Linked DNA regions of Homo sapiens. The protein of the gene in region 4 interacts with the protein of the main gene of each other region in a biochemical or structural test. Each region holds a gene or a part of one and is shown on either strand. Other genes may lie near its edges.

Region 1 (7,020 bases), on a different chromosome or scaffold from region 4:
TTATTATAGAGCTGTCATTGCAGATTGGTGGGGGGTGGGACAAAGAAATACTCATTAAATAATGATGCTGTGGACCGGGCGCGGTGGCTCACGCCTGGAATCCCAGCACTTTGGGAGGCCGAGGCGGGCGGATCACGAGGTCAGGAGATCGAGACCATCCCGGCTAAAACGGTGAAACCCCGTCTCTACTAAAAATACAAAAAATTAGCCGGGCGTAGTGGCGGGCGCCTGTAGTCCCAGCTACTTGGGAGGCTGAGGCAGGAGAATGGCGTGAACCCGGGAGGCGGAGCTTGCAGTGAGCCGAGATCCCGCCACTGCACTCCAGCCTGGGCGACAGAGCGAGACTCCGTCTCAAAAAAAAAAAAAAAAAAAAATAATGATGCTGTGACATGTGGTTATCCATATGGAAAAATTGAGATTGAGGTTCTACCTTATATCATACAGAGAAATCAACTGTAGGTGATTAAATACTTAGATATAAAAAGTAAAACTATACAACTTTTAGAAGAAGATATAAGAGAAGACGTTTAAGACCATGTCTTGGAGAATGATTTCTCAAACAAGACACAGAAAGCAGAAACTATAAAAAAAAAAAAAAGGGTTAAGCCAATTACGCTAAAATTAAGACTTTCTCATTATCAAAGAGCATCATAAAGAAAGTGAAACTGCAAGCCATAAGCTGGCATAAGATATCTGTATCACATTAATTGATGAAAAAGATCACCAATAATATATAAGCATTTCTATAATCAACATGAAGAAATATTCAACAGAAAATGAGGAAAGACATGTACAGGCATTTTTTAGTTAAGAGAGAACATGAACGTCTAATAAATATAAGAAAAAATGATGAATATGAATTTGTAATCAAGAAATGCAAATCCAAATCTAAAATATATAATTTTCTACCTACCAGAATGAGAGTTTAAAAGTCTGACGTACAAATCTTGTGAGTGTGTGTAGTAAGAAAAACTTTTTTACATATGCTAATACAAGTATAACTTTGTAAAACCACCTTGGACAATACTTTTGTGTTACTTAGGTAAGTTAAATTTGTGCCCTCCAAGGCATCTAGTCTAGTCTAGAGAAAGTCTTGCATAGGTACAGCAGGAAAGATGTACAAAGATTGTATGAGTTACAACAAACTTGGAAACAACCAAAGTGTAAATTGACAGGGAAAATCTCAAATGTCCATAAAATGGAAAAATAGATAATTATTATAGGTTGTAGCATATTCACATAATGAAATAACTTATAGCAGTGAAAAATAAATGGACTATAGCTTCATGCACCAACCTTGGATGAATCTCATGAACATAACATATAGAAAGCAAACCACAGAGAAGAACATGTACAGTATGGTTCAGTTACATAAAGTTCACAAAGTGCACCAAGCTAAAGGTTATAGTTGAGAGATACACACATCTGTGGTAACAACAGAAGAAATGTCAAGTGCTTTATTTAGGAAGGTGGTTCCCTCTGAGGGCTGGAGAGTAGGAGGAGAATGAAATCATGGGAGCTTGGTAATGTTCTGTTTTTTAAGTGGGGCTATGGGTTCATGGGTCCTTGAATCATGGTTAGTATTTACACTTATTACATATGTTAGAAATATTCTTGTAAATCGTTTTATGTTTAATAAAAACAATATATAAACCAAGATGCTTTTGTATTGACTAGTTATATCTGGTCTATAGAAGGAAAGGTGACAAATTTAGAAGAAGCTAATTTCAGGGAATGTTGCTTTTCCTTTAAAAAAAAGATGGGCAAATGATATTTTTTTGTGCATTGATTGGTTGAACAAAATGTTTTAGTCATTCCAAAGCCCATTGCAGGCAGACTTTTGCATCATGTGAGTTTCAGAAAGTAGGTAAACCATCTTATAAATAAGCTTATGTGATGCTAAATAGGCATACACAAATGGTACCCAGCTGCAAGTGATGAAGTTATGAAATAATGTTCTTTTTCATCATAAAAATACATTTTATGGAAATGCGAACTATATTACACTTTTATGGAAACAGGAAAATATTTTACCATTTTAAGAGCAAACGATCTCCTTTCAGATTTCTCTTTTAACTTGACTCTCAGATTTTTATTTAAGCACTTAGAATTTCTATTCTTTCCCTCCAAATGTCTCCTGATTTCTTACATTCCCTGTTTTACTGAGCTTTGCCAATATTATTTTTTATGTTCATTATTTTTTGCCTGTGTTTTCTATTTAGTTTTGGCTTTTAATTAGGTTATATTCCTAGGAGCTTTGTATCAGAGATTTTATTCACTAGCTATGAAAATTTCATCCCTCCCAATTTTATTAGGCCATTTTACAAACGTAAGTCTTCTTTTTATAAACAGCTCCAGTAATATTTTCTAATAATTTATTATCCTTTTCCTTAAAATCTGAATGTCCATTGTGTTTCTCTTATGACACCAGCCTTCTTGACTGACTGAAGAAAAGCAAGCAGACGTGACAATGATATATCTCTTTTTATTATTCCCCTTATTTTCTGCATTCACAGATTGTGTTTTGTTTTATCTATTCAACTTTTAATACATCAGTATTAACTGATGTTGAAAAACCATCTAGTATAATAATTAAAGTCAAAACTTGCTACTCTCCACTGGTTTTTTGATAAAGTGAATATAGTAGCTCCCTCTCATACCTCTTGCATATATTCCAACATCTCCAGCGGATGCCTGAAATCACAGGCAGAACTAACCCTATATACACTGTTTTCCCTATATATATCTATGATAAAGTTTAATTTACAAATTAGACACAGCAAGGGATCAAAAACAATAAAAAAAGAACAATTATAACAAAATGCCAGCATCACTACTCTTGCACTTTGGGGCCATTACTAAGTAAAACAACGGTTACTTGAACACGGGCAGTGCGATACCATGATAGTCAATCTGATAATCGAGAGGGCTGCTGAGTAACCAGTGGGCAGGTAGCATCTACAGTGTGGATAAAGGGCTGTTTCACCTTCTGGGAAGGACAAAATTTCAGCACGATACTCACAACGCTGCACAATTTAAAATTTATAATTGTTTATTTCTGAAAAATTTTATGTAATATTTTTGGATTGCAGTTGACACAGGTATCTATAATAAAACCTCGGAAGGTAAAACCTCAGAGTTTCACCTGAAGAGCTTCCTAAAACATAGCCTGGTGACCCCACTCCTAGAGTTTCTGATTCAGCAGTTTTGGGTGGGGCTAGAGAATCTACATTTCTACCAAGTTTCCAGGTGATGCTGATGCCAGGAACCGTGCTGAGAACCATTGCTCTGGCTTAAATTCTGTAAGAAAGAGGAATCTTTTCCTGCAAGGGTATTTCTCTATTTAGGCTTCTTTGCCTTGGGAGTACTGTGTATATCCAGCAGCGAGTCATTTAGATCCCTTGTGAAAATACATGGCCACTGTTTGTAACCGACAGAGACCAGCCCTGTAGTCCACCGTGGGTCTCTATCTCTCACAGGGCTCTGGCCATTTTGCACATGGTCTTCCTACTGTGTTTCACCTGCACTGGAAAGATTAATTTTGTTTTACTTAACTGCTTGTGAGCTGGCCTTATAGCAGGTTAAGAAAGTGTCCTTCTGGCTTATAGGGAAGCTGTAGAGCCAGGAAACCATGTGGAGGCCCATCTTCAAATCAGGGCTAGACGGGGTAAGAGGAGGCTGGTGCTAGATCACGGGGAGGGCTGCCAGTCTCTGGTGTCAGCCCTGCCTGGGTTTAAATTCCAACTTGGATGCTTCCCAGCTGTCAAAGGATTGTGGTAGTGGGGAGAAACAAAGACATGATGTGCATGCCTTCTGCTTTTGGACTGTGGATAATCCTCTGACTTGGAAATGCGTATCATAGAAATGCAGACTTGGTGGTAGAAATAACAGATTCAGCCATCAGGGAAAATTGGTTGGTGAGGCTCTGCACAAGAACCTGAGGTTCCGGAACCCCAAAGCCACAGCTTTTCTTTATTAACTTAAAGAGGCAGGAGGGAGGGCAAGAATAAATTCTAGATTTTATTCATACACCGACACACACACACACACAAACACACAGAGAGAGTAAAGAGACTAATATTTTATATTGTTAACAAGCTTTGTTTTATACCCTTAAATGAAGAATCAGTTACCCATCAATCAGATGCCTCAAAGTAATTATTAAATGAAAAAATCTACTCTTAACTTTAATTGGAAAATTTCTAGCTGCTGTCTTTTTTTTTTTTTTTTCTTGAGACAGATTCTCACTCTGTTGCCCAGGCTGGAGTGCAGTGGCACGATCTTGGCTCACTGCAACCTCCGCCTCCCTGGGCTCAAGCGATTCTCCTGCCTCAGCCTCCTGAGTAGCTAGGACTACAGGCGCCCGCCACCACGCCTGGCTAATTTTTTTGTATTTTTAGTAGAGATGGGGTTTCACAGTGTTAGCCAGGTTGTTCTCCATCTCTTGACCTTGTGATCCTCCCGCCTCAGCCTCCCAAAGTGCTAGGATTACCGGTGTGAGCCACCACGCCCGGCCCCTGCTGTCATTTTTAAGAACAACCTGTATCCAAGAAGCCAAATCCCTTTTACTCCTAATGCTTCTGTCTGCCCAGTATCAAACCAAAAGACCAGTCAACACAAAGGAAAAATTTCCTAAAAGTCCCGCAAAACCATGTGATTAATCAATATGGGGGAAAAAGCACAAAACTAAAAATAAATTTCAAAAGATTCAACCTTAATCAAAACAGAATCATCAAACCATAGAAAGAATTATGGAGAAATAATGTTTCCTTTTCAAGCTATTTCTTAGATTTCTTTCATTTGCTCTTTAGAAAAATAGTACTTTACTGAGGTTAATCAATTAGAAGGTCATAAGCAGAAAAATGAGAATGAGAGATATTATAAAATAGCAAGTGGCCAGACTTTTAAGAAACTGGGTCATCATCAACTAGAAAGAGGGCAAACCTACAGCAACCCCGCTTGACAGCATGCTTCAGTACTCTTCCAATACCACAGTCGGTTTTTCTTTCAGAATTAAGCAATTCTATAAAAAGAGACTGTTCTTACCCTCATCCTCCCATTCCTTATTGCTGGTCCATCTTCTGCCAGTCTCAACACATACAAATCCATTTTGTATTCCCTTCCTCCACGAATGCTGAATCCAAATCCTTTGGCTCCTTTCTCCATGTCCACAGTGAAATAATCAAAATCCTTTGGGGTTGGGGAGAAAATGGAATAAATAATTATTTAGTTATCAGAGAAGCTTCTGTGGCTAGTCTCTGTGTTCTCCTTCTGTCTCTTAGTTAATGTATTCCAAATGACATGATGTTGGGAGAAGTCGTAATCTGGCTTCATAAACTACCCAAATGAAAGACAAAATTCCAAAGGTTTGAGCAGGCCAGAGCACAGTTTACTTGGTCATCAAAGAATTACTGTGTAGCTTGTTTACTTTGGTATTCATCAGTTTACTTGGCAAACGTGGAATGATTACAGATAGGCCTGAGTGACATCATCTCTCCTTTTACTTCTCTCATTCACTGCTATTGAGCACCATAAATAAATGTCAGGTGTGTGTGTGTGTGTGTGTGTGTGTGTGTACAAATTACAGAGTTTGCTGATTAGAAAAGTAAAATTTAGTGGGATCTGATAATTAGATCTCTCAGTTGCACAGACTATTGAATATCAAGTTGGAATGTACAAAATCAATTTCTCTTTTACCTAAAATGCAGTATGTCCAAGATTCTCTGATCTTCACTATTCTTAAAATCTTTGGGCATAAAGTTGATCTTCAATTCATAATAAAACACAATGTAATCTGATAGAGTTGAGATTGTACTTAATTTATATCTTGGTATGTAGTTACGAAGTAGGAAATATTTTCTAGATACCAAACTCTGGTCTAGACTCTTTTCATAAATGTTGAATCCTCATCCTGGCCTGTAAGGAAGACTCTCCCTTTAGGAAACTGAATCTCAGAGAAGTTAAGGAAGTTGACATGAAGCACATCAACAAATAATCATAACAACAGTGACACTGGTTGTGTAGACAGAGAGTTGTTGGCTGTGGCAGGCGCTACACTCTGGATTGTGAAGCCAAGCCTGGTCTTATTCTTACGCACAGGGGCTTGGCCCTTTATCACAGAGTGGCAGGTAGGGGGCCACGTAAAAAAATATGGACCTAAAATACCTCCACTGCTAGCATCTATAAAATTTTCTGCATTAGCAGCACTCTCAGAGGTCCCAGGTTAGAGCATTTTTAAAACTTTGACAAGGAAACGTACAAGGAGTTAGCTAGTATTAGCAGGGATTAGTTTATTCCATTACTACTCATCCGCTATTTATTTATGTATTTATCCATATTTATTTATTGTCCTGCTTTATTCTGAAATAGATTTATTTATCCAGCATGTTTCTGAGGATGCAGGTGTTACCCCGATGTTACCAGAACTAGGAATAGAACTTCAGCTCTCCATCCCAGACAGGTACTCTTTCCTCTGCCTCTCCTATTTCATTCCTTGCAGTTCTCTGGAAGCCTTGGTCAGGACCCACCCTGCTCTCCGGGAGGAGGTACCTGGGGTTGTCTGTAGTCCGACAGAGGGTACTGCCTGGTGTCGGGGGAGTGCTGCCTGTAGTCCAGTAGGGGAGGCTGCCTGTAGTCCAAGGGTGGGGGCTGCTGGTAGTCCCCTCCTGGGGGTTGCCTGTAATCCAGCGGGGGCTGCCTGTAGTCTGTGAATGGAGGCTGTCGGATGTCTGGTTTCACATCTTGCCTTGCTTTCACTTCCGACCTGTAACTAAATCAATGGAAATGGGATTTGCTTTTGTAACTCTGCATTCTAAAGAGGCTAGAGTGATCACACGGCCTCCAGAGGTGGGCCAGCCATGACAGCTCACACAAACCACTCCTCTCGGTGGTCCTGTTGGATGCTCAGGATTATGAGAAGGTTAAATATTATTTAAAAATCTCTGACAAATGCCATATTGTATGCTTTTTATTTGGCTCCTTACGAAGTCAAGGTAAAAATGATGGTTCAACCAGAACCTT
Region 2 (7,756 bases), on a different chromosome or scaffold from region 4:
GCTGGAAAACCGTTCTTAACTTCCCTCGCCAGGGGGTCCCCTCGGGGCTTTTTGTGTGTCATAATTGCCTAAAGATATATGGCAGCTTCGATTACTGTAATTACCATCAGAGGCTGTTGAAAGAAGTTAGTCTGGGCTGCAGGGGTGACTGGCCAGGGTCTCGTTACCACCCAGGCGGGGCTCCGGGTGACATCGCTCTGCTCTCCAGCCGCGAGAAGCCGGGCAAGGCGGGGGCTGCAGCTCTGTCTGCTCGACCCAGTCCTGACCCGGCCCGCTGCGCGCCGACCTCCTAGCTGCCCCGGGCCCGAGGGACGCAAGTCTCGGGTTGGCTGCCGCCACCGGTCTGGAAAGGGCCTAAATGCAGCGGCGCCACCGGCGGGGGCCGCTGTCCTGCGGGCCTGAGAAAGCTCAGCAGCCGCGTCCCGACCTGAGCCGGGGCTGGAGGCTTCCAAGGCCTCACTCAGGCTCTTGGCAAGTTAGAACGGCCAAAGTTTCCGCAAGGAGCCCGCTGTGGTTTTTCCCCCAAAGTCCGGAGGGTTGGCCTGCCTCCTAGTCCACAGCGGGGGCGCAGCCGCAGGCGGGCAGAGCTCCCCGCTCACCCCTCCCTCGCCTCTGAGGCCTCACCTTTCAAGGGCCCCAGGGGCTCCACACCCCGAAAAGGACGAAAGAGCCCGGGGCTCCTTACTTCCAGGGGTGTAGGCGAGGGCCTGTCCCGGGGCGAGCGAGCTAGGAGGCCTGCCGAGACCCACGGGCTTCAGTTTTTGCAACGGAGGCTCAGAATGCAACAGAAACGGCCTCCTGAGCCTCCTGGGAAGGACACTCACGCCCGGGAATGCGGGCAACAAAAATCGAGGTCGCTTTACCTCCTGGAGATTCCAACAGCGAGGGCCAGGGTAGGCCCGAGCCTAAAGGGAAACCCAGTCCTGGGCCAGGGTCCGCTCTGCATTCCGGCCGCGGTGAGGGCTCCTTCTCTGCTCCCTCTGCCCCAGCTCGAAACATTTCTCCTTTTCTTTTTGTTCACGTTCATTTTGCTCTAATTTTTTAAAGGTCAGCACCCAAAGCAAAACAAAATGAAAACACAACCTCCTTCTTGGAGGGGGGTAGGAGGGCGGGAATTGCATCCCACTTAAGTGAGACTTCATTACCAGTCCTCAGAAGTATCTCCGATTCTCCCAACTTTCAAAGACTCAGGACAATGAGGGCGAGTGAAAGGGGGAGGGGGAGGGAAGGAACGCACAGAGCGCCAAAAATGCTATCTGCGAAAACAACACAAGCAGCAAGGCAACTTCGGGATATGGGGACTGCGGCGGCAACGGTAGTCCCCAGCCTCAGACCCTGGAGCCCGCAGCCGTGGGCCACTGGATGGCGGGAACTGAAATGCCCCCGGGAGATCTGAGCACCGTGACCGCGCCTGCTCAACGCTGGCTCGGGCCTGCACATTCTTGGGTTCCGCAGGCAGGGTGCAAGCAAATGCCCTCGCACACACACTTAGCCCTGCGCTCGTGAGTCTCGGGGTGGTGAGAGGTCAGCTGCGGCCTGGCGTTCGGAGAGCCGGCAGCTAAGGAAGTTCGAGGAAGGAGAGAAGCGCACGGAGGGAGCAGGCCGCGCACTCCTGCCTCTGCTGGGCTCCGGCTCGAAAAGTCCTTGGGATTAGGGATTTGGTCCTCTCTTTGCTAGAGTGGTTCGCCATACTTTAAATTCCCCAGTTATGACCTACGCGGATTTAGGATTAAGGAAAATGTGACTTTTAAATTGTTTCTGCTTCCCAGTTTGCAGGATTATTTGAAATAGCTAGAAACGGGGTGCAAAGCATTCCATTCAAAATCCGCTTTGCACAGAGTTGCTTTTGCGCGCTGGAGCTCGGAGTTTTGAGCGAGTGTGTTATTGTGCTACCGCCTGGAGCTGCGGCCCAGTTCCCGCCCCCATGGCCCCCCCATCCAGCACCTGGCGGCTAAATGGAGACAACTCATCCGACTGGTGGGCTGCGCGGGTCGTAACCTTCTCACCGCACCAGACAGGGGGGATCAAGCAATCCAGAGGCAACGAAACGGCTCTCCCCTCTCCACGAAATGCTCCAACTCACGGTCTACAGGTCTGGGCCGAACGCACACGCCCGCTGGAATCCCTCTCAGGGGCTCAGATTCGCAGCGCTCCAGGCAGGACCTCCCCCAGCCTCCCCGCTCGCTCGCCCCAGGCTGCGCGCCTAGGCCCCACGGCGGCCCGAGAGGTACCCACTTGTTGATCCGGCTGGCTTGCTCATGCTGGCTGTCCCGGGGCGGAGCGGTTGGTGGGCGCTGCCCGAGTCCCGGCCGGCAGCGCCCGCCTCGCCGCCGGGCGCCGCCGCTCTCCAGCTGCCCTCCAGCCTGCAAGGCTCCTGGGCGGGACAGGTGGGTGTCAGTCGCGCGCTGCGCTGCTCCCTGGGCGCTCAGAATTCGTCCAACAGTGGAAATTTAAGCATCCTTAAGTTTCTTCCCGGCTCTTGCAAAACCGCAGCTGCTGGGAATGCTGCTTGATATGGACACACACATGGACAGACAGATGGAGAGATGGACAGGAAGACTGAGGAAGAAGGAAGAACAGCAAGAGAGGGATGTTGAAAGACAGAGATGGAGACACGAAAATGGCCTTCCTACGGAGCGAAATCCCTCTTTTTCCCCATTCCTGTCACTCAGTCTTCGATCTCTCCCTCTACATAGGCATGCAGAGTGTGGGCAATCTCTGCCGACCGCTGGTCTCCCAAGGAAAGAAGGAAAACACTACCGCAGTCTCAGAGGCAGACGGGCTCCGCGCTGCCGGAACCCAAGCGCAGAGTGGGAAAACTAGATTGCTGGGAAATCTTCCGAGGGAAGAGGCGGCCAGGTCCGGGTTTCCGGGGAGAGCCGCGCACGCAGCGGCGAAGGGTCCCCGAAGTTCATTACCCCGTGACTTTGTGCCTGTCGCTGCGGGCTGGGTCCCCTGTAATATCTCCAGAAGCGCTCTGACAGGCAGCCGCGGGGAGGGGAATAGGGCGTCCCTGGCCCACTTAGCTTTTCCCCCAACTCCTGGCGGGGTCTGACGTCAGCCATGTGCGGGGAGGGGATGGGAAGAGGGAGGGGGTTAAATGCTAATGATATTAATGAACCTCCAAGCGGCTCCCAAAGAAAATGCAGGCGCTGTCGGAGCTTACGAGTTAGAAAGTGTGAATATGGGAGTGTGGCTCTGTGCGTGCGTGATGGTGAGGACGGTGCGGCTCGTAATAAAAATGAATTCGTATATTTCACGGCAAGAAGGAAGGGGAGGGGTGACGGGGCTTTCTCAAAACGCTTTTCCCCCTCTCTCCAGAGTGCCAGATAGATTCGCGGAAGAAATTGGGTGGCTGTGTGCTGGCGTGTGATTGTGCGCGCCGGACATGGCCATGTGAGTTGGTTCATTCTTGGTCCGGTGCCCCTTCTGTTGGGTAAAACTTGGATCTGGCCCGAGGTGAGTAATTTACTCATTTTGCACATATCTACGGAAAGTCAGGGCTGAGGATGGGGTCTTCTGGAGGTTCCGCGTTCCTTCGGCCTTCGCGCAGTGGGTTTGGGCACCAGCCGAGGGGAGGATGCCGCCAGCTTCCCCAAGCAGAGCTGGCCCATCCGACGCTGAGCGAATCTCTTGTCGCCTCCATTATCTGCACCGGGGCGGCTGGAGGGCAGAGCGTTCCCTCCCGCCGCTCGTCCTCGGCGGGCGTTGCGGGCTCCCGCTCTCCGGGCGGAGGAATAGTGAAGAGAGGCCCTCATCCCCTACCCCCTCCCCATTCCGCTTGCCTTCCCGCGATTCCTGAGCTCTCTCGCGCCTTGCTCTGTGCGCGGCGCTGGGAGAGCGCATGCCGAGGGAGCGATGATCCCCGATCTCTAAGAGATTAATTCTATTTAAGCTCTCTCGGCAGCTTGAACTTGTCGAACAAGAGCTTGCCAGTCCCTCCTCAGGGCGTGGACCCGGCCAGAGGTCAGAGGTTACACCTCCCGCCCTCCGCTCGACGTTCGCGGGGAGGGGAGCTGTGGCCGGCGCTCTGCAATTCCGCCAGCCCACCCCCCGGTCCCTCTTTCTCCAGACTCGGTGTCATCCCGGGCTTTCAATCAGAGTTCGCCTGTGCGTGCAAGTGAATGCTGGAGTCCCCCGAGCCCTGGGAGGGCGCAGCAGGTCCTCCGCCTGGGCGTCCCAGGGGGAGCGGGCTGTGCGCTCCAGTGGGCTCCGACAGCACGTGATTGCAACTTTCTGCCCAGCCTTGGCTCGGCCTCGAGCTCGGGGTCTCGCACACCACACACACCAGAGCCTGTGTCCTCCTTAGTGGGGCGCCGCGACCAAGGCTGGGGTCCCGGGGAAAGAGCAAGATGGGGGGATCTTTATCTCTCAGTTTATTCCCTCCTCCTCGGTTTTTCGAATTGGGACGAGATTGGGGGATTGTGGGACGAGGCCATAAGCGCGTAGGGGTTTATTAGGTGACAGGAGGAGAAATCAGCGTTTTTTGACAGCCAACTTGTACAGCCGCTTGTGGAGCTAGCCCGACCGGCGGCGTAGCGCTTTCTCGAACTCGGCGCCCAGAGAGGGGAGGAATTTCGGGCAGGATTTGAGAAACACAATAAGATGCCAGGCTCCGTTTGGAATCCTCAGGTTCTGGTTCACGCCAGAAATCCACTTGCTTCAGCCACCTACCACCACCACCCCCATAACGCGGACGCGATTATGGGGTTCTTTGGTTCAGGACAAAGAACTTCAAGGGTGGAACTAATTTATCTGGGGCGAAGATGAGGGCAGTGTGGGGGGTGATGACTAGACCCAGGCCTGTCTGCAGGGGAAGCATTTAGGGGTCTGTTTCGAGAAGGAGAACTACTAATTGCTTTGCCTGTGCGGGGGCTGGACGATGGCTTTCCTGGGCTCCAAACCACCTCTTCCCCTACTCTCGAACGCTCCTGCCAGGCTGGCTCATTTGTAGGCACCAAAACTTCTGGAAAATACTCCCAAGGCTCATCAAATTGTCTCAAAATCAAAATGGGTATCTTCCCTCTTTTTCCTGTCACCAGTCCCCGATCAAGCATGGTGTCAAGAAGATGCCTACGGAATACACACACACCCCATTCAGCCCTGGCGAAAGGCACAACACTGCGCGCACACACCCGCAGCATATGCATCCTGTGTTCTGTGCGCCCGGCTGTAATTATCGGCGCGCTTTGCATAAATCACAATACAGTTCTGAAATCATCGTGATGACTTTCTGGCATGACTGGTTCAGTGGTAACGGCGGCAACAAGCTCCAGGGTAGGCGGGAGGGGCTGAGGCCCCGTCGCCCACCAGGTCCCAAATAAGCCTGGAGCCTTAGTGCGGGCTGCCTTCTACTCAGGCAAAGCTGCTGCAGGCCACGGGGGACCTCGGATTTAAGGCGTAGAAACTTGGGGCTACCATGGGTACAGCTCAGAGAAGAAAGCCTTTGCAGGACAAAGACTATGGCTCTTCATCTTTCTATCCACAGGCCCCAGCATGCTGCCTGATTCATAGTAGGTGCTGCATAAATGTTGGGCAAATGAAGGGAAGTCACCTGCAGATGCCCTGAGGGGCCACTGGAGGCACAGCCAGGCTAAACGCTGGAAACCACGAGATAGGGATTCAGGGCTGTGCCAACAAGCTGTGTGACCTTAGGCGAGTGGCTAGACCTCTCTGGGTTCCAGATTGTTATTTGTAAAAGGATTCTCACCCTGTTCGGTCTTAACTTTCAAAGATTTTTTCCTGTGAGTCCATTAAAGGAAATGATTGATAAGGGGCAAATGCCATCTGGCTCAGAATTATCTTTTAACAGAGACAAGACCTTAAGTTACAAGGATAAGTTTATTGCTTTGGAAGGTGGTGGGGATAGCCACACCCTCAGAGGTTCTGAAACCCTTCTAAACAGGTTCAGACATAGCCCCTAATTTCCTCTGTAGGCGCTTGTGAGTATGGAGCTCTCAACCAAAACCAAAGCCTAAAACGCAGGGAAGGTTCTTTTATCGAAGGATGTTTACATTTTGGTCCAAGAGATAGGAAATAAGATCATGAGAGGACCATGGATCAAGGGGTATTTCTGCCCATCCATCAATCTACCCACTCATCAAATACTGAGCACCCACTATATGCCAGACCCTGGGGATATAGCAGATTAATGACATGACTCCTTTCTCCATGTAGCAGGGAGCAGACACATAAAAGATGATAAATGTTTTAGATTGGGATGAAACACAGGACACTGGAGATATATACAAGGAGCCCTAAACCAGTGTGCGGTGACATAGGCTGTCCAGAATTGCCCTGGAAAGCTGGCCTTGTGTTAGGAGAATCTACTGATTCTACAGTCCTCTGAGGACTGTATTGTATTATAGCTCATTCCTCTGCTAGTGCCCTGTTAAAGAGAATCCTATTAACTAGGTTGTATGAGAGAGGCAGGGGTACAGAGCACCCCTCAAAGTTTCAGACTATCTGAGGTTGACTGCTAGCCCTGCCATTCACTAGCTTCTCTAAAAACGGTGACATTTTTTCCATTAACACCCCCTCCACACACACACATTCTTCTAAATTAAAATACCGAAGGTGAAAGGACAAGCTTTCCCATCAGCTAGCAGAGCTGATGGAATTGGTGTTAAAGAGACCCCTTCCCCAATCCCCTGTGATCGACCCCTCACAGAGGCCATTCAACCTCTAGAGAGTCACTCCTTTAAAATACCATTCCCCTTACCGATATGCAGAGTTAAGAGATGCTCAGACCAAGGAAATCGCTGGGAAAACCTACCAGCTGAGCTTGGCTGAGTTTTGATGTTTAGTATCCAAAAACATTCTGACACAAGTTTTTGTTTGTTTGTTTGTTTGTTTGTTTATATGAAGGAGGAAGTTGATTTGCATTTGCTTCCACATCATAATTCAACCTATGGCTGTTGTTTGCCCAGTGGATGGTGAGAGAGGAGGTGGGTCATGGAGCAGTGTCTGGCACATAGTAGGTGCTTGCTAAGTGCCAAATGAAAGAAACAGTGTTTGCAGGCTTGCTCTTGATTCTGCTGTGGATCTCTCTACAAGTTGTTTGATTCTTATCCAAATTTACCCCCCAAATAAACAAGAACAATCCAGAAAAGAGACGCTTGTTCTCTAGAATCCAGTGGGTCCTGAGTTGCAGGGTTTTTCTTGACACTTTTGAGCACTGTATTGCCAAAAGTAGTCTGTTACTCCCCACAAGTAGGAAGATGAACGCTGCTAACAACAAGGAGACAATGCTCTGTGTGACCACCCCCCTCACCCCACAACCTTAACAAATAACAAGTCATGTCTTTGCATTTATTCACACCCTTGGTTGGACAAAAATTCAGTTCTAAAGTCAGGCTGAGACTCCGAGGCTTCTAGAGTCCCGCTGCATCTTGACATTCTCTGGCTCCAAGAATAATCAAGTAGAAACATCTTTCTAGTCCCTTGCACCCTGGCACATAGTGGTGCTTTGTAAATGTGGAATGTATGAGTGAACCTGCCTGATGATACTCAATGAAAGCTACTGAAGCTTGAGGTGAAGGGCTCATTTTTGCTCAGCCCCAGCAATGGGGTAGGAAGGGAACAGGGACAGGTCCTCTGAATCTCCAAACCTTGGGAAGCAGTGCAGGTCATTTTTGGCTTTCTGAAAACAAAAGAATGACTAGAGAAACAAGAAAGCAGAACACAGACTACATCCAGGGAGATACTGGCTGCCAAGCTTTCTTCAGCCTCCTAATTTCCTGTGAATTACACAGTC
Region 3 (7,020 bases), on a different chromosome or scaffold from region 4:
TAGATGTTGATGAATATGGCAATATATTCCGGATTTTTCATATAAATGTTATAAAATGTAACACCATTAATGAGAAGATGGCATTGGGAATTAAGAAGAGAGAATGCAAACATATTTAAAATCAAGGAGTATAGTCAGGTGTGGTGGCTCATGCCTGTAATCCTAGCACTTCGGGAGGCCGAGGCAGGTGGATCCCTTGAGCGCGGGAGTTCGAGACCAGCATGGGTAACATGGAGAAATCATTTCTACTGAAAATACAAAAATCAGCCGGGAGTGGTGGCATGCACCTATAGTCTCAGCTACTTGGGGGGCTAAGGCAGGAAGATCGCTTGAAACTAGGAGGTTGAGGCTGCAGTGAGCTGAGATGGCACCACTGCACTCCAGCCTGGGTGACAAAGTGAGACCCTGTCTCAAAAATAAAAATAAAAAATAAAATCAAGGAGTACGTTTCTATAATCAGTTGTTTGCTGGCTTAGGCGAATTCATTACAATATGGTTCTAATACATGTGTAAGTTAGTTGGCTATAATGAAACTTTATGTTTGGTCTCCTTAGAAGTGAATCTAATGGGATAATAAACCACATCAATAACAGAAATGAGAAAGAGGATAGATGAGTTAGGAGAACAAGGTGGTTTGTGTCTGTCAAATGAGCAGTGGCTGAATCAGAGGTGCACCTGATGTACCAAGAATTATTTGAAAGTTTCCAGGCTGTCAGCCTCAGTATTAAGCAACTATACAAAAATCAGTGTTATTCAGTTAAGTAGGGCAGAACATTGGACTGGAAACCACAGAGCCAGGGTGAACAGCTCAGAACTACTGTGGGGTGGCACCTTCCTACCTCACAGGGAAGTGACAAATATCAGTGGAGAGGCACGTGCAGGTATGAAAGTGCTTTGTGTATCACTGATTCTTCTATAAGTGCCAGGTTTCATCATCACCATCATCATTATTGTCATAATCGTTCTTATACCCAAGTCATTTCCTACTACATACATCTTGGCTACTGTTTAAAACCAGTTCTCTGAGCAGTCAAGTGATCTAGGTACAAGAAGAGACTTGAAAATTAGTTGGTGGAAATGACATTTTAAAAAAAATAAAATTTGCACAATGCCTTTTATAACTGCCTAAGCCAGGCTCATTGAGCATTTCAATTCACATAGACAGCTACTCTGTATTTTGGGTTTCCTTCAAATGACCCCAGCCATTCTGATCGCAGAACACACAGGTTCATGAAAACATGAGAATCTGGCTGCTGTGACACAAATGAGCTCTCCTGTTGCAACAAACCAAAAGGAAGTCAAAGTCTGGTTCTTGATCTCTTTTCAAAAGGCCTGAATATGTTGTTCATGAAACAAATCATGGTAGCAAGGATCAGGGAAACAGCCATTCTCAGGCCCACTGTGTAAAACTATCAGTCACGACTAATCACATATAAGTATATATTCCAGGAGCAAGACACTTCAATATGGTGGAAAGTATTGCTCAGTGTGACGTCCTGTGTTTTCTGGTGAGGCAGAGGGTGGGATACGGACTCAAGGAGAAAGGAGGAAGCTTAATGCCTCGAGATTTAGAATAACCCAGATCTCTGAGATCCTAAACTACTAAACGCGAGCATGTGGAGGGAAGTGTTTAATATGATTAGCAGACCTCTTGTTTCTGCCAAATAGAAATAATCACATACCTATTCACTTAATACCTATTCATTCATAAATACCTAAAAGGAGTCAGGTGTTGTGTTAAATGCTGGGGATAACAGCTGTCCACATGCACACATGGGCCCTGGCTTTATGGAGCTTTATATTCTAATGAAAGACAAATAATGAAAAATAAATAAAAGCATGAAATAACGTCTTGTGCTAAAAAGGTGATGATGATCAAGGTTATGAAAAACTGTGATAAAGATTATATGGAAGTGTTGGGAGCTACTTTAGATAAAGTGATGGGAGAAGCCCTCTCTCATAAGGAGACCTGAATGGGACTGAGCCAGCTGGGAAGAGCTGGGAAAGGACCATTCCAGGCAGAACGGACAGTAAATACAAAGGGCCTGAGGCAAGAAAAGGCTTGAAGCATTAAAGGAGCTCCATAAAAGCAGCCAGTGTGGCTAAAGCACCATCAGATGGAGGAGAGGAACATGAGACAAGTTTGGAGTGACCATAGCCACATTTTGCAGGCTATGCAGGCCAAGTTCAGGAGATTTAAAGGATAAAGGTTATTATTTTTTATATATATATAAAAAAACTTTTTAGAGAATGGGGTCTCAATATGTTGCCCAGTCTGGACTCAAATGCCTGGGCTCAAGTGATCTTCCTGCCTCAGCCTCTCAAGCAGCCAGGACTACAGGTGGGTACCACCACACCCAACTTAGGTTTTTAAATCTTAACATTTTAAAAAGGCAAAATCTGATTTCTGTTTTAAGGTATCATTCTAACTGCATATGTCTGTCATAATGTATAAACCACAATTTTTATGCTAAAGAGGTTAGTATTTGGAGAAATCAGTAGGCATTTTGAAACATTTAAATAAATTTAAAAAGCCCCCAGTGGTCATCTGAAGATGAGTAAGTTAAGCAATGAATTTGGGATAAAAAAAAAATTCAAAGAACAAAACAACCCTACTTACCTCCTCGTTGCACCAACAATGTGACCTCACTTCCCTTAGGACACTCAACCAGCATATCCACCACTTGGTTGTGAGTTAGGGCCTGCACGTTCTTCTTATTAACTTCCACTATGAGATCCCCTTCTTTCAGGCCTCGGCACCTTGGGCTGTCAACAATCTGTTTCACTCTTTGGCCACCCCCACCAGGACTGTCTGCGATAGTAAAACCAAAGCCCATTGGCCCTTTGACAATATGAACAGTTATGAGTTCTGGCTGAGTGGCTATGGAGGAAGCCAAAGAAACAGTGTCATTAGGATAACCATGAGAACTATTTGAAGCCACGTCCGCTGGGCTGCTTGGCCTGGCATCCTTCATGCCATTGACTTTGCCTGTTTTACTACTGTGGCTAGCTGGTGAATCATAGGTCTCTTGCCCATTCACAATAATTGGTTCTTTATCCAAAATGGCTACCGAGGTCACTAAACTTGTATTGGGGTCATCTGGATCAAAAGGCAATGGATAACCTCGGCAGAGTTCAAGGTCCACGCTGGCACCAATGGGGATGGACTGGAAGATCTTCACAACTTGAGCATGTGTGTGTCCCAAAACACAGGTGTCATTCACACTTACAATCACATCCCCTGTAGAAGGCAAGAGTGTGGGGGTTAAGAAAACAGCACCCAGAAAATTGTCATCAGTATTATAATATCTCCCACTAACATAAAGCTGAACTGAAACTGCATGTGGGTGTGATACTATAGGGTATAAAGTGCTTCTATTACTGATTTTAACAGCTAATAAAGTGTTCTTTCAGCACCTAGTGTCTTCCCTGCTAATGAGAATGTAATAATCACTCACAGAACATTGGAGCTTTCTCCTAAAAAAAAATCTCACTGCAGAAATCCAAGTTTAGAATTCATTTATTTAAATGGGGATCTACAGTTTTAGTAACTCATTGCTTTACTGTACTCAAACAGTTTCCCAAACTTAAAATGACTTCACAGGTTTTAATCTGTCCCAAGGGATGAATTTATGTAATGTGGAGACCTGGCTCATTCTCAAGGTGTTTAAAGCTGTAAACATGTGCAATCATGACGTTGCTTGGTCTTGCTCAAACAAACAACATCATGATTGCACATGTTTATCTCCTGGATTGGAGTCTCACCACACAGAACACACTAAGGCCATGTTGACGCTACCTGTTTCCATCTTGCCATCCAATGCAGCAGGACCATCTAGGACCAAGCTCTTGATCTGGAGAAACTCATCAGGTTCATCCCCTCCAACCACCGTGAAGCCAAAGCCACGACTGCTTTTCCGCAGCTTTGTGTGAATGAACTTGCCTTTCAACTCAGAAGGGTTTCGTGTAAAAAAGGGTTTGCCTGGATTAAAATAAGAAACGCATAAGGAATGTCACCACTGGTGAAAAGGAGAATTAAACAAGATTTGAGACAACATATAGATAATTCTTCACGCTTATGCCCTAGAGCCTTTGGGCATATAGCATCTTAAGAAAGTCCTCTCTTAATTTGAGGAATAAGGATGTTCCTAGGCCCCAGTGTTGATGGAGGGAGGTAAAGCATTGAGTATGTCAACTCCAGGGTCCAAAAGAAACTACAAGAGAGGGATGAAACTAGTCCCTGTCAGGTGACACACTTCTTGGTTTCCATTCATGCACTTTGACAGGAATTGAGCTGCCACAAACCCCTTCACAGAAAATGGAACTGGTCTGTTTTATGTCTTTTGTTTTGTTTTAATTTTATTTTGCTATATGGCTTCTGATGTGCTGCTTTGGGCCTGGCTTCCACTTGAAAAACCAACAGAACTAATCAAACGGAAAATCCAGGCTGAAAATGCACAGATAATACCAGAAAACATATTATAGTCACAAATAATAATTTGACAAAAATGTAGAATGACTATTTTCAAAATTAAGGGTCATTACTTTGAATTGAATTCTAAATTCAACTGATTTTTTCCTATTTATCTGATCTTTTATTAAATTTGTGATATAGCCAACGCATGCCTAGGGCTAAGAATTACTGTTTAAAACAAGTTTAGGATATTTGTTTAAAAAACACAAACCAAAAAAACAAACAAAGAAACCCCCCCCACAACACACACACACAAAATCCCTAAACTAAGTAGTTACTAACAGTAGCCACACAGCTCCAAATTCAGCTGTCTTATTTAAAATAAATTAGGCTGGGGGTGTGGTGGCTCATGCCTGTAATCCTAGCACTTTGGGAGGCTGAGTCAGGTGGAGCACTGAGGTCAGGAGTTCAAAACCAACCTGGCCAACATAGTGAAATCCTGTCTCTACTAAAAAAAAAAAATACAAAAATTAGCCAGATGAGGTGGTGGATGCCTGTAATCCCAGCTACTTGGGAGGCTGAGGCAGGACAATCACTTGAATCCAGGAGGTAGAGGTTGCAGTGAGCTGAGATTGCGCCATTGCACTCCAGCCTGGGCAACAAGAGCAAAACTCTGTCTCAAAAAAATAATAAAAATAAAATAAATTTACAGATAGAGGTATCGCTAAATTATTTCCAAACATGCTACCTAAGGTTTTATTGAGTTTTCTTGATACATTCACAAATAACATTTTGAACATAAACCAAAACGTTTTCTTTTGGGTTTTACTAGGCACTTCTCTGTAATTGAGAAACTTACTGGAACTTCTCTGATTATCCCAAGTAGTAGACCTAATTTCATGAGCAGCTTCTTTCATCTCTTCTAACTTTACTTACTTCTTATACCCTGTCCTTGCCACACACAGCTTCTCCATCTGCCCTGTTTCTTTTCTATCAAAAATGTTATCCAAAACAAAAAGAGAGAGAGAAAGAGGGAGACATTAGTCCCCTACACCCCTGTACTAGGAGCCTGGCACCTAGGAAAGAAAGTTATTTTTGGTTAGTTATATCTAAAAGAGTTTAAAAGGTCTCTGGGCATGCATACAATTTTTAATTGCATATTTTAAAAGTTTCTGGCTCTTGCAAAGAAGGCTCTTTTAAATTGCCTGCAATCAGAGGTCCTTTCGCTAACCTGCTCTCTAGCGCAGTCCCAAAGCTTATTGGAAGGTTGACAAACTACAGCCCTGTCATAGTGGCTAAAGAAAGGCAAGACTTACAAGGATTCGCCACGCAAAGTCATCTGCCAAGGCGTTGGGAGGGTGGTGTCACTTGCACCAAGAGCTTTGGGGAGACAGCTGCCAAGACAATTATCAGATGGAAATTGAGGTGAGGTAAGATAACCCCCAAAGTTTACTTTAGGGGGAGGAGGGTGACTGGCCTACACTCTTGTAGCAGGTGCTGCTAGGGCATTCCAGGGCCCTGAAGGGAAACACATTTCAGTTATGCAGAGACATCAACAGCCATTACCTTCGCAGCAAGACCTTCCCTAACCACCTTACTAAAAATTGCAGTACCTCCAACATTCCCAATCCCTTTTTCCTGCTTTATTTTTGTCCTTAGCATTTACCACCTTCCAAAAGAATATACATCTTACTTATTGCTTTGGTTTTCTTACTATCCCCAACTCCCATGCATGAGTGGCATTGATATGCAGGTACATAAAACCACTAGAATGTTAGCTCCATGAGGATTTTTATACGTATATCAAGTATCTAGAATATTGTCTGGTACATTTTATGTGCTCCAAAAATTTCTGTTGAGTGAGAGAATGAATGAACAAATAAAAGCACACAGAAATGATATTTATCATGTCTTTGAGAAGGCTGAAAAGAGGTGTTTGGTTGTTGGAGCTTTTCACTCTTATTATAGGCTAAGTTAGAAAACGTGAAAATGTGCCTGGCAGTTTATCTACTTAAAAAAAAATACATTAGCATATTTTGTGCTGAGAATGTTAACTTAATAAAGACATGAGCAGAGCTTTGAAATTATACGACTGACTTCCTTTTCCAATGTTTAACAAGGGAAGGAAAATCAGAGGGTTTCACATTTATGCACATTTTATTATTTTTTACGTATGGGTGGATCATTAGTTAATGTAGCTTTTGGAAAGAAACGCTTTTCACCCCATAAGCAGTGGAATTTGGAGCTCTCAGCTGCAGCCCTGTGGTACATGTAATTTTCTAAGATCCTAACCTCTGTTTACCAGTCACCAGCGGTAAGACTTGGTTGTGTCTTACCCAGGGAAAATCCCCTGGGTAGCTTTTTAAAATGTACTCATTTTCACTTCCTTCCTTAGACTCACTGATCAGGATGTTCTGGGTCTTGGCCCAAAACTCTGCACCTGAATGAACCTTAGGTGCATGTTTCCCTGCCAGGATGGGGGGAGGGGAAAGAAATGTCACTTCTTGACACTAGTGTTTAAATACCCTAGACCAGTACCGTCTAATGGCACTTTCCGTGATGATGGAAATGCTCTGCACCTGCACTGTTCAATATGGCAGCCACTA
Region 4 (7,926 bases):
GTGGATTGTGTGTCTTTCTAGACCTGGGTCATGTTTTAGCACCAGCCTACACTCCTAGCAGGCAATCACTGTAACTAATATTACAGAGCACCTACTCTGTATCTGGCCACATACTAAGCACATTCACCTTCATTACCTTGCTTTATTTTATTTATTTATTTATTTATTTATTTATTGAGACGGAGTCTCACTCTGTCACCCAGGCTGGAGTGCCGTGCCGCGATCTCGGCTCGGCTCACTGCAAGCTCCACCTCCCGGGTTCACGCCATTCTCCTGCCTCAGCCTCCTGAGTAGCTGGGACTACAGGCGCCCGCCACCACGCCCGGCTAATTTTTTTGTATTTTTACTAGAGACGGGGTTTCACCGTGTTAGCCAGGATGGTCTCAATCGCCTGACCTCGTGATCCGCCCGCCTCAGCCTCCCAAAGTGCTGGGATTACAGGCGTGAGCCACTGCGCACTGCCATTACCTTACTTTAAAAAGAAAATGATTAAGACCAGACTGGGTTGGGAGGAAAGTGAGAACTAGAAAAAGAGCCCCTAAGTAAGAACAGGAAAAGAAATTAAGAGAGAAATATGGGATGTCAGAAGGAATACAGTGGAGTCACAAGCTCTCTGGGAGGGGCTCGCAGGCTAAATTTCAGGATCATTGGCCCAGCCCCCAACATCATTCTGGACCTGCCAGACTAACAAACCAGTCCAAAGTGACTCCTAGATAACAATGCAGCCCAGACCAGCAGATAACGATGCACTGGCCTAAGCCTTCTGAGAATCCGGGACCTTCAGAGAGGCCTCAGAGATCATCTCATCTATAGCCCCTTCATCTTAACAATGAAGCCCAGGCTCAAAGAGAAGTGACTTGCCCAAGGTCACAGAGGCACAGCCAGGTCTAGACACAGGTCTCCTGGCTCCTGTTCTATAGTATTTCCCCTGCATGAAGCTGTTTCACAGCCCTCTGTCCTGGGCCACCCTCACCTGGGATGGGCCTGGGAGCCCAGCCATTTCTACAAGGTCAGGGAAGAAGGCCAAAGGTTAGTTGAGGGAAAGAGGAAAAGGGTTACTCAAGAAGGGAGGCTCAAAGAGGAATTCAAGTTTTAGAAAATGAAAGAAAGTGCAAAGAAGCAAAAAGACAACTCTACAAAAAATAACATAATAAGGGAGGTAGAGGTCAGAACCAACTGCCAAAAGATGGTGTAACCTGAACAGAAGCGTTTTCATCCTCCCATCATGCCCAGGTGGAGAGACTTGGAGAAACACCTATGATCTGCAAGGAACGTATCTACCTGTTCCAACAGACTTCAACATGAAAGGGTGCACACCGTGGGGAAACTCCCAACCACCAACAGATCCAGAAACAACCTCCAAAACCCAGCCCAGAGTCCCAAGGACAGCCACAGGCTGAGGTCCAATAAACATTCGAAGCCCCCCCAACCAATCTGACATCCCACTGGATCACTACCATAGCAACACAGTGGCAAAAGGTGCCCCTCAAGAGACCATCCCAGGTGTCCATCTGGCAGCTACCCCCTACCCCAGTTGCCAAAGCAACTCCTACCCTCCTATAGCACCTCAGGTAAGGGAGCTTGAAGGTACCTACCCTAGTCAAAATAAGCCCATGCACAAAGGGAGATCTTTGAGCTCAAAGCAGTAACTAAGGCCTCCCTATATAGATCACAGCTCCAGGGGCAGCGGACGCTCCGGAAATTGGAGGGTGGAGGGTGGAGGTCGCAACTTGCCTGGAGTGCCTGTAAGGTTGCTCAATTCTCCATTTCCATCCTCCCAGAACCCCTTTCTTCCCAACTCCCCCTTCTGTGTTCCTGTTTTCCTCCTCACTAGTTTTGGGATAACCCACACTACTGGGCCCCAGTGCCCTCTCCAAGAAATAACTATGTCTGGGATAGGGAAAACAGGGTCAGAGGTGACCTGCAGTAGGGGAATGAAAACCGTCACAAAGACATGGCCTTCCCTCTTCCACGCTGGAAAACCTCCGGCTCTTCTCAAAAATGGACCTCTCTTTGCCCAAGCCTCCGTCTCCCCCAGGTTCATCAGCCACAATCCCTCTTTCCACCTACCACACCCCTTTCCCGTTTCCCACTTCCCGTCTATTCCTAAAGCCCCCAACCCCAGGCTCCGGAACCCGTGTTCTGGTCCTTTGGAGCTTTTTCCTGGAGGCTTCATGCCCCACCTCGCTGCCATCTCTCCTATCCATTCTGCCTTCGCCCGGAACCCCACTCACAGCATCCCCCGTTTTCCTCCGCCAACCCCGGCCTCGATGTTCCTCCTCTTTTGAGTCTGCGGGTCCCGGATACCCTCTGGCCCCACAGGCCTCCTCCGGAGACCCTCCCTCCTTCCCCACCTTCCCGATCCTCCCGAAACCCTGGCCCCCGACTCTCCTCGGCGGGCCCCACCCCCTGAGCCCCCGGCCCTCAGGCCAGGCAGAGCCCGCAGTGGGGGGACGGGATTGGGAAAATAACAAATGGAGGCGGCGGCGGCAGGAGGGGGAACTGGGAGGGGTGGGGGTGGGGAGCCGCAGGCCGGAGCCCGGGCGGGACAGAACCCCGCGGGCCCGGGGCCCAGGCGGCCGCAGACCTTACCTGCTGGTAGCTCGGGACGGCTGGCTGGCTCCGAGCGGGATTCCGGGCTCCGGCGCCTCTGGGGGGCGGCGGCGGCAGCTCCCCCGCCCCCCTCTCCTCTTCTCGGCCTCAGTCGCCGCCGCGACGACGGCGGCGGCGGCCCCGACCCCCCCGGAGGGCGGCCCCCATCCCCCCTTTTCCCCGCCTGGCCCCAATCGCCCGCCGGCCCCCGGAGCAAACCCCGATCCCCGCTCTGCTCCCCACCTCCCCGGGCTCGCCGCCTCCCCCTGGCCGCCCGGAATGCCCCGGGCCGCGCCGCCCGCCCCCGCCGCGCCGCCCGGCCCCGCGGCCCGCCCGGCCCTCGGCGCGGTTCCGACCCGCCGCCGCCCGCGCCCGCCTAGCGCAGCCCGCACCCGCGCGATCCCGGGCCCCTCGGCCGCCTCGCCCGCGGCCCCCGCCCCTTCCCCGGCAGTCGGCTCCCTCTCCCCCCTCCTAGCCCCTCCCCGAAGCCGCGGTCCCTCCGAAATGGCCCGGCCCGAGGCCCCGACCCGGCGCGGGGCTGCGGACGGGCTGGGCGGTGCGTCCGGCGACTCGCACAGGAAAGCGGACGGCGAAGGGAGGGAGCCTGGGAGAGGGGGATGGGAGAAGGGAGGAAGAGGGAGAAGGAGGGAGCGCGGAGGAACGGAGGAGAGAGGGGCCAGGAGGGAGACGCGAGGGAGGGAGCGCGAGGCAAGCCGCGAGGGGGGAGAGAGGGGGAGCCGGAGAGGGGGAGGCGCAGCGCGAGTTGGCCGAGGCCGAGGCCGAGGGGGCCGGGGCGCGGGGAGGGCTAGCCGTGGCGGAATGTGGGGAGCCCGCGGGCCCGGCGCGGGAGAGGGCTAGGTAGGAGGGGCTGTGGGTGGTGAGGGCAGATGAGGGGAGGCTGAAGTTTGGGGGCGAGCGGGTCTGTGGCAGAGGTGAAGTGGGAGGAGTTTGGGGGATCCTGGGGTAGAGATTGGGATAATGGGATTGGATTGGAAAGATGGAGCTGCCTGGGGGCTTTGTGGGTGCCTGGTGAGAAGTGAGAGAAGCTTGGGGTGAGGGATCTGTGGCAGAGATGGAGCCAGACGGGTTTGGGGGCTATTATCAGAGAGAATGGGATGGAAGTTTGGGGTCATAAGGAGAGAGAAAAATTGAAAAGATGACATATATAGAAAGATGGGGCTTCTGGAAAAAGTAAAGCTTTTGGGGGTGATTAGTGTTGACAAAAGAGTCATAAATATAAGAATTGGGGGTGGGGGGATGAAGGAATGCTGGAGAGAGAGAAGTCCAGAGGAAACGTCAGTGAGGAGAGAGAGGAGGGAACGCGTGAGGAACCTTAAGAAGGGATGAACGAGGTGGGCCCAGGTGCCAATTCTAGGGAAAATAGGTTCTGGGTGAGAAAGGAGGGCTCTGGATGGGAAAGAAGGGTGGGAGACACCGGGCTGGCTGGATCCTGGGGGTGGGGGCTCCCAGTAGAGCCGAGGAGGGTTTACTTGGGCGGGCAGAATGGGGAAGAGGGGGATAAGAAGATTGGAAGGAAATGTAAGCTGAACAAGGCCTATGGCTGGCGGCAGTATGGAAGAGGAAAGATCATGGATGGGAAAAGAAAATGGAGATGGGGCCGGTGCGGGGGCTCACGCCTGTAATCTCAGCACTTTCGGAGGCTGAGTCGGGTGGGTCACTTGTCAGGAGTTCAAGACCAGCCTGGCCAACATGGCGAAACCCCGTCTCTACTAAAAATACAAAAATTAGCCGGGTGTGGTGGCGCATGCCTGTAATCCCAGCTACTCAGAGGCTGAGGCAGGAGAATCCTTGAACCTGGGAGGCAAAGGTTTCAGCAAGCAGAGATCGCGCCACTGCACTCCAGCCTGGGAGACAGAGCGAGACGCCGTCTCAAAAAAAAAAAGAAAAAATGGAGATGGGAAACGAGGGCAGTTAAAGGAAATGACAGATGTGGGAGCGGGGGGAGGTTGCTGGCAAGCTCATGGGTAGATAGGTAAGGGATACAGCTTGGAGGAGTGAGACACCATCCTCAGGCCTTCCATCTAGTGGCATCTCCATTTTCCTTCTCAAATCTGTTGAAAGTCATCACTAAAGATCCCCTGGGTCACAGGGAAGCAGTCGGGTGAAGACTGGGCTTAATGTGGACCCAAATCCCTGGGTATCCTTGTTGCTCAATCCCACTTGTTCTAAGGTGGAGACAGTCCCCACCACAGACTGCAGGCTCCTCCCAACCCTTCCTCTCCCTCCCCTGCTCTCCAGGTAGCCTCTGGCAGTCAGTCTGCTCCCGGCCGTGAAGCCAGCACCTCCGCCAGCCCACCACCAGTTCCTTCTCCTGGGCTCCCTCCTGGCCCTCCACCAAGCGGCAACATCTCCCAGGACAAAGGACACAGGGTGATTTTTGGCAGCAGAAATTGGGAAGGCCAGAGAATGGGAGGGAGGCAGGCTGGCAAGCCGGAAGAGCTGGAGCTGGAGTGTGGATTAGGAGCCCTCAGTAGAGCTCCAGATTTGGGGTGGGGGTCGGGTACTTGTGGGGCCAGTCTTGCTGGAGGCTAAGGGTGGGCCCTGAATTGGCAAGATCCCACCTGCCTTCAGGGAAGGAAGGAGGTTAGCTCTGGAGCAGCTCAGTAGATTTTTGTCTCACAATTCCTTGGGCCAGATTCAACAAAGTTCTGGGAATACTCAAAAGCTCTAAACAAGATTCCAGAGCACTGGGGAACTGGGCGCAGGAACAGGAACACTTCCTTGGCCTGGGAATGAGTCATCACTCTGAAGTCCCTTGAATTGGTTGGCACTCACTTTACCACTCCAAGCACACCTTCCTCCCAGGGCCTCCCTGAGACCAGGCCAGCTCCCTGTCTCCCTGTGCACCCCGACTCCCTTCCTCTTGCTCTAGGGTAGCTGCTGCTCCTCCCCACCCCTGACTTTGTTCCAGGGCTCCCCCTTTCCCTCTCACCCTCTCTCCCCATGGCATTTCCTCTCTTTCTGTACCACTCAGTTCAGTCTCCCACTGGGCCTTGGCTCAAGCCCTTTCCAAATCCCTTCCAGGCTGAGCTCTTCTCCCTTGTTTTTTAATCACTAAGGAATGGGCTACAATGGATACTAAAAGAAAAATTTAGGCATATGTGGGGATAGGGGATGGTGAGAGTCACAAAAGAAACCATTGTCTACCCTCTCCCATTCCTCCCCTACCTGAGGGCCAGGCTTATAGTCCAGCTGCAGGGGACATCTCTCTCTCTCTCTCTCACACACACACACACACACACACACGCACACGCACACACACAGCCCCAGCCATCCCTCACCCCAGCTCCCTCTCTGGCTCAGCCCCCCACAACCCATTGGTCTCCAGGCAACGGCACAAAGGGAAAGTGGAGAGAAGGGCCTGGGAGGCCCAGGCAGAGCTAGCTGTAACCCAATCCAACCCCGATACTTTGGGGGTTGGGGGGCCAGACTGTCAGAGAAGGCGACCTGGTGAGGAGGGATGAAAGAAAGGACAGAGGCTAGGAACTAGGCTCAAACTAGGATAGTCCTGGTCAGTCTGGGAGTTACTAAGGTAAGATGGGTATCAGGGACCCCAGAGAAAACTGAGAGGCACAGAGGAAAGTACAGGAAACCCCAAGGGAGGCATAAAGGGTCGCCAGGAGAAAAGGGAAAGATGAGATGCCCACACTGAAACTAAAAGGCACAGAAATGGAAAGGGGGCATGAGGCTCTTTGAACTGAAAATGGCTGAGGTGTCAGGGACCCGGGAAGGAGGGCAAGAAAAGAAATGGGCCCTACCCATACAGAACTAGAACCTATTTTAGCCTTGGAGCTGGGCAGGATGGCAGAGGGAGCCAGGACCAGACCTTCGCAGAAGCAGAGCGGGAGGCCCGCAGGGGACAGCCTTGAAGTTCCTCCCACTTGGCGTCCAGTATGGCGTCCTGCAAAACTCTGACTCCCTCTAGTGGTTAGATCTCCCATGTGCAAACCCTATCTGTGGGACGCAACCTTGCATCCGAGCCACTAGGAAGGGATTTGTCCCCCTCGGGGGTACCTAGAATGAGCATCTCAACGCTGAGGCCCCATAAGAGTTAACGAGTTATAGCTAAGGAGTAGTACGTCTCTAGCCACATATTGGAAACCTACTGTTAGTCTGACCCAGCCAGGGTTCTGTTAAGCACTTTTGTTCCTGAATCTTCAGTTTATTGAGGACTCTGTTTCCTTAGGTCCTTCCGTATACTACCCCCGGAACCATTCTTCCTTCCCATTTCCCCATCTTGCAGTGGGTGATGGCCATGAAGTCCTGTTCCATTCGAGAACCAGCCAGGGTTTTGTTGGCAGAGGCCCAGTACAGGAGCTGCTCCAGTCCACAAGCCCTTTGGATATGAAAACACCTTAGACCCCCTTTCCCCCAAAATGCGCGTGCACACACACACACACACAAAATATTTTATGCTTTTAGGGGCTCTTGAACCCCTTAATTCACCTGCGTCTGGGAGCCAAGCCTTCTGCTAAGAAAGCAGGGGCCACATGCACCCCACCTAGCCAGAATGGGGTAGGCAGTGCCATCATCTCGGCCATATTTGTTCAGTTTGTCTTCCTCTTTTTGTGCCCCCCCAGCTCTGCTATCCAGTTTCACCAGCTTCCAGGTGCTCCATCTTCTCTCCCCTCATAGGGACTAGAGTAAGACTCCTTAGACACAACAGTGCACTGATTCAGACTTTAATGGAGGTGCTCATTTCAATGCCACAGAGGTGGTGGCAACTGTGGAACGTGGCATGGGGAGTGAGAGGTTGCTCTGGTGCAGCTGGAGGAAGAACAGGGAACCTAGGGTTGGGGAGAGATGTATAGAGGAAAACTCCCCCAGGCACACAGCCTCCGCTCTGGACCAACGCAGGCTTCAGTGAGTACACACAAAGGAACTGATGTCAAGGCCCTTTCTATGACCCTTCCCATTCTAGCAAGACCTCCCACCCCAGTCATCTTGGGATCTACAGCCACATGAAATACAGACACATCGTTCCCCCAAGTCAGGCCAGTTTTAGGCCATTGAGTTATGGGGAAATGATTAATGGGATGAATGAAAAACAAATAAAATAAATAAATAAATAAATACACTAAAGCCTTATTAGCCAGGCGTGATCACATGCCCAACACTCCCCTCCATCCCAGCACTATGCACAGTTCACGGCTCATATGCAAAGTGGAAGACACGTGGGACAAGAGCAAAGCACAAGTGACACATGGTCCCTCTCTAACACCTCAGCACACCAACCCTGACGCTCCCATCACAGATGCTGATCATTCTTCCACGGACCCCCTTTTATAATAATCCTCATTCACATTTCTAGTT

Evidence for each region.
Region 1: the proteins of ATN1 (region 4) and MAGI2 form a complex in vitro, tested with the Homo sapiens proteins (one study listed by BioGRID).
Region 2: the proteins of ATN1 (region 4) and NR2E1 form a complex in vitro, tested with the Homo sapiens proteins (one study listed by BioGRID).
Region 3: the proteins of ATN1 (region 4) and MAGI1 form a complex in vitro, tested with the Homo sapiens proteins (one study listed by BioGRID).

What each region holds. Positions count from the first base shown.
Region 1 is NC_000007.14:78,120,648-78,127,667, forward strand, and holds part of MAGI2 (membrane-associated guanylate kinase, WW and PDZ domain-containing protein 2), read right to left. Parts: intron 6,770-7,020; coding exon 6,550-6,769; intron 5,191-6,549; coding exon 5,047-5,190; intron 1-5,046. UniProt on the Homo sapiens protein: Seems to act as a scaffold molecule at synaptic junctions by assembling neurotransmitter receptors and cell adhesion proteins. Plays a role in nerve growth factor (NGF)-induced recruitment of RAPGEF2 to late endosomes and neurite outgrowth.
Region 2 is NC_000006.12:108,161,270-108,169,025, reverse strand, and holds the start of NR2E1 (nuclear receptor subfamily 2 group E member 1), read right to left. Parts: upstream 3,005-7,756; 5' UTR 2,261-3,004; coding exon 2,236-2,260; intron 1,004-2,235; exon of another isoform or gene 1,000-1,003; coding exon of another isoform or gene 864-999; intron 1-863. UniProt on the Homo sapiens protein: Orphan receptor that binds DNA as a monomer to hormone response elements (HRE) containing an extended core motif half-site sequence 5'-AAGGTCA-3' in which the 5' flanking nucleotides participate in determining receptor specificity.
Region 3 is NC_000003.12:65,426,900-65,433,919, forward strand, and holds part of MAGI1 (membrane-associated guanylate kinase, WW and PDZ domain-containing protein 1), read right to left. Parts: intron 3,983-7,020; coding exon 3,800-3,982; intron 3,242-3,799; coding exon 2,621-3,241; intron 1-2,620. UniProt on the Homo sapiens protein: Plays a role in coupling actin fibers to cell junctions in endothelial cells, via its interaction with AMOTL2 and CDH5. May regulate acid-induced ASIC3 currents by modulating its expression at the cell surface.
Region 4 is NC_000012.12:6,923,051-6,930,976, reverse strand, and holds the start of ATN1 (atrophin-1), read right to left. Parts: upstream 3,019-7,926; 5' UTR 2,593-3,018; intron 2,477-2,592; exon of another isoform or gene 2,235-2,476; intron 1-2,234. UniProt on the Homo sapiens protein: Transcriptional corepressor. Recruits NR2E1 to repress transcription. Promotes vascular smooth cell (VSMC) migration and orientation. Corepressor of MTG8 transcriptional repression.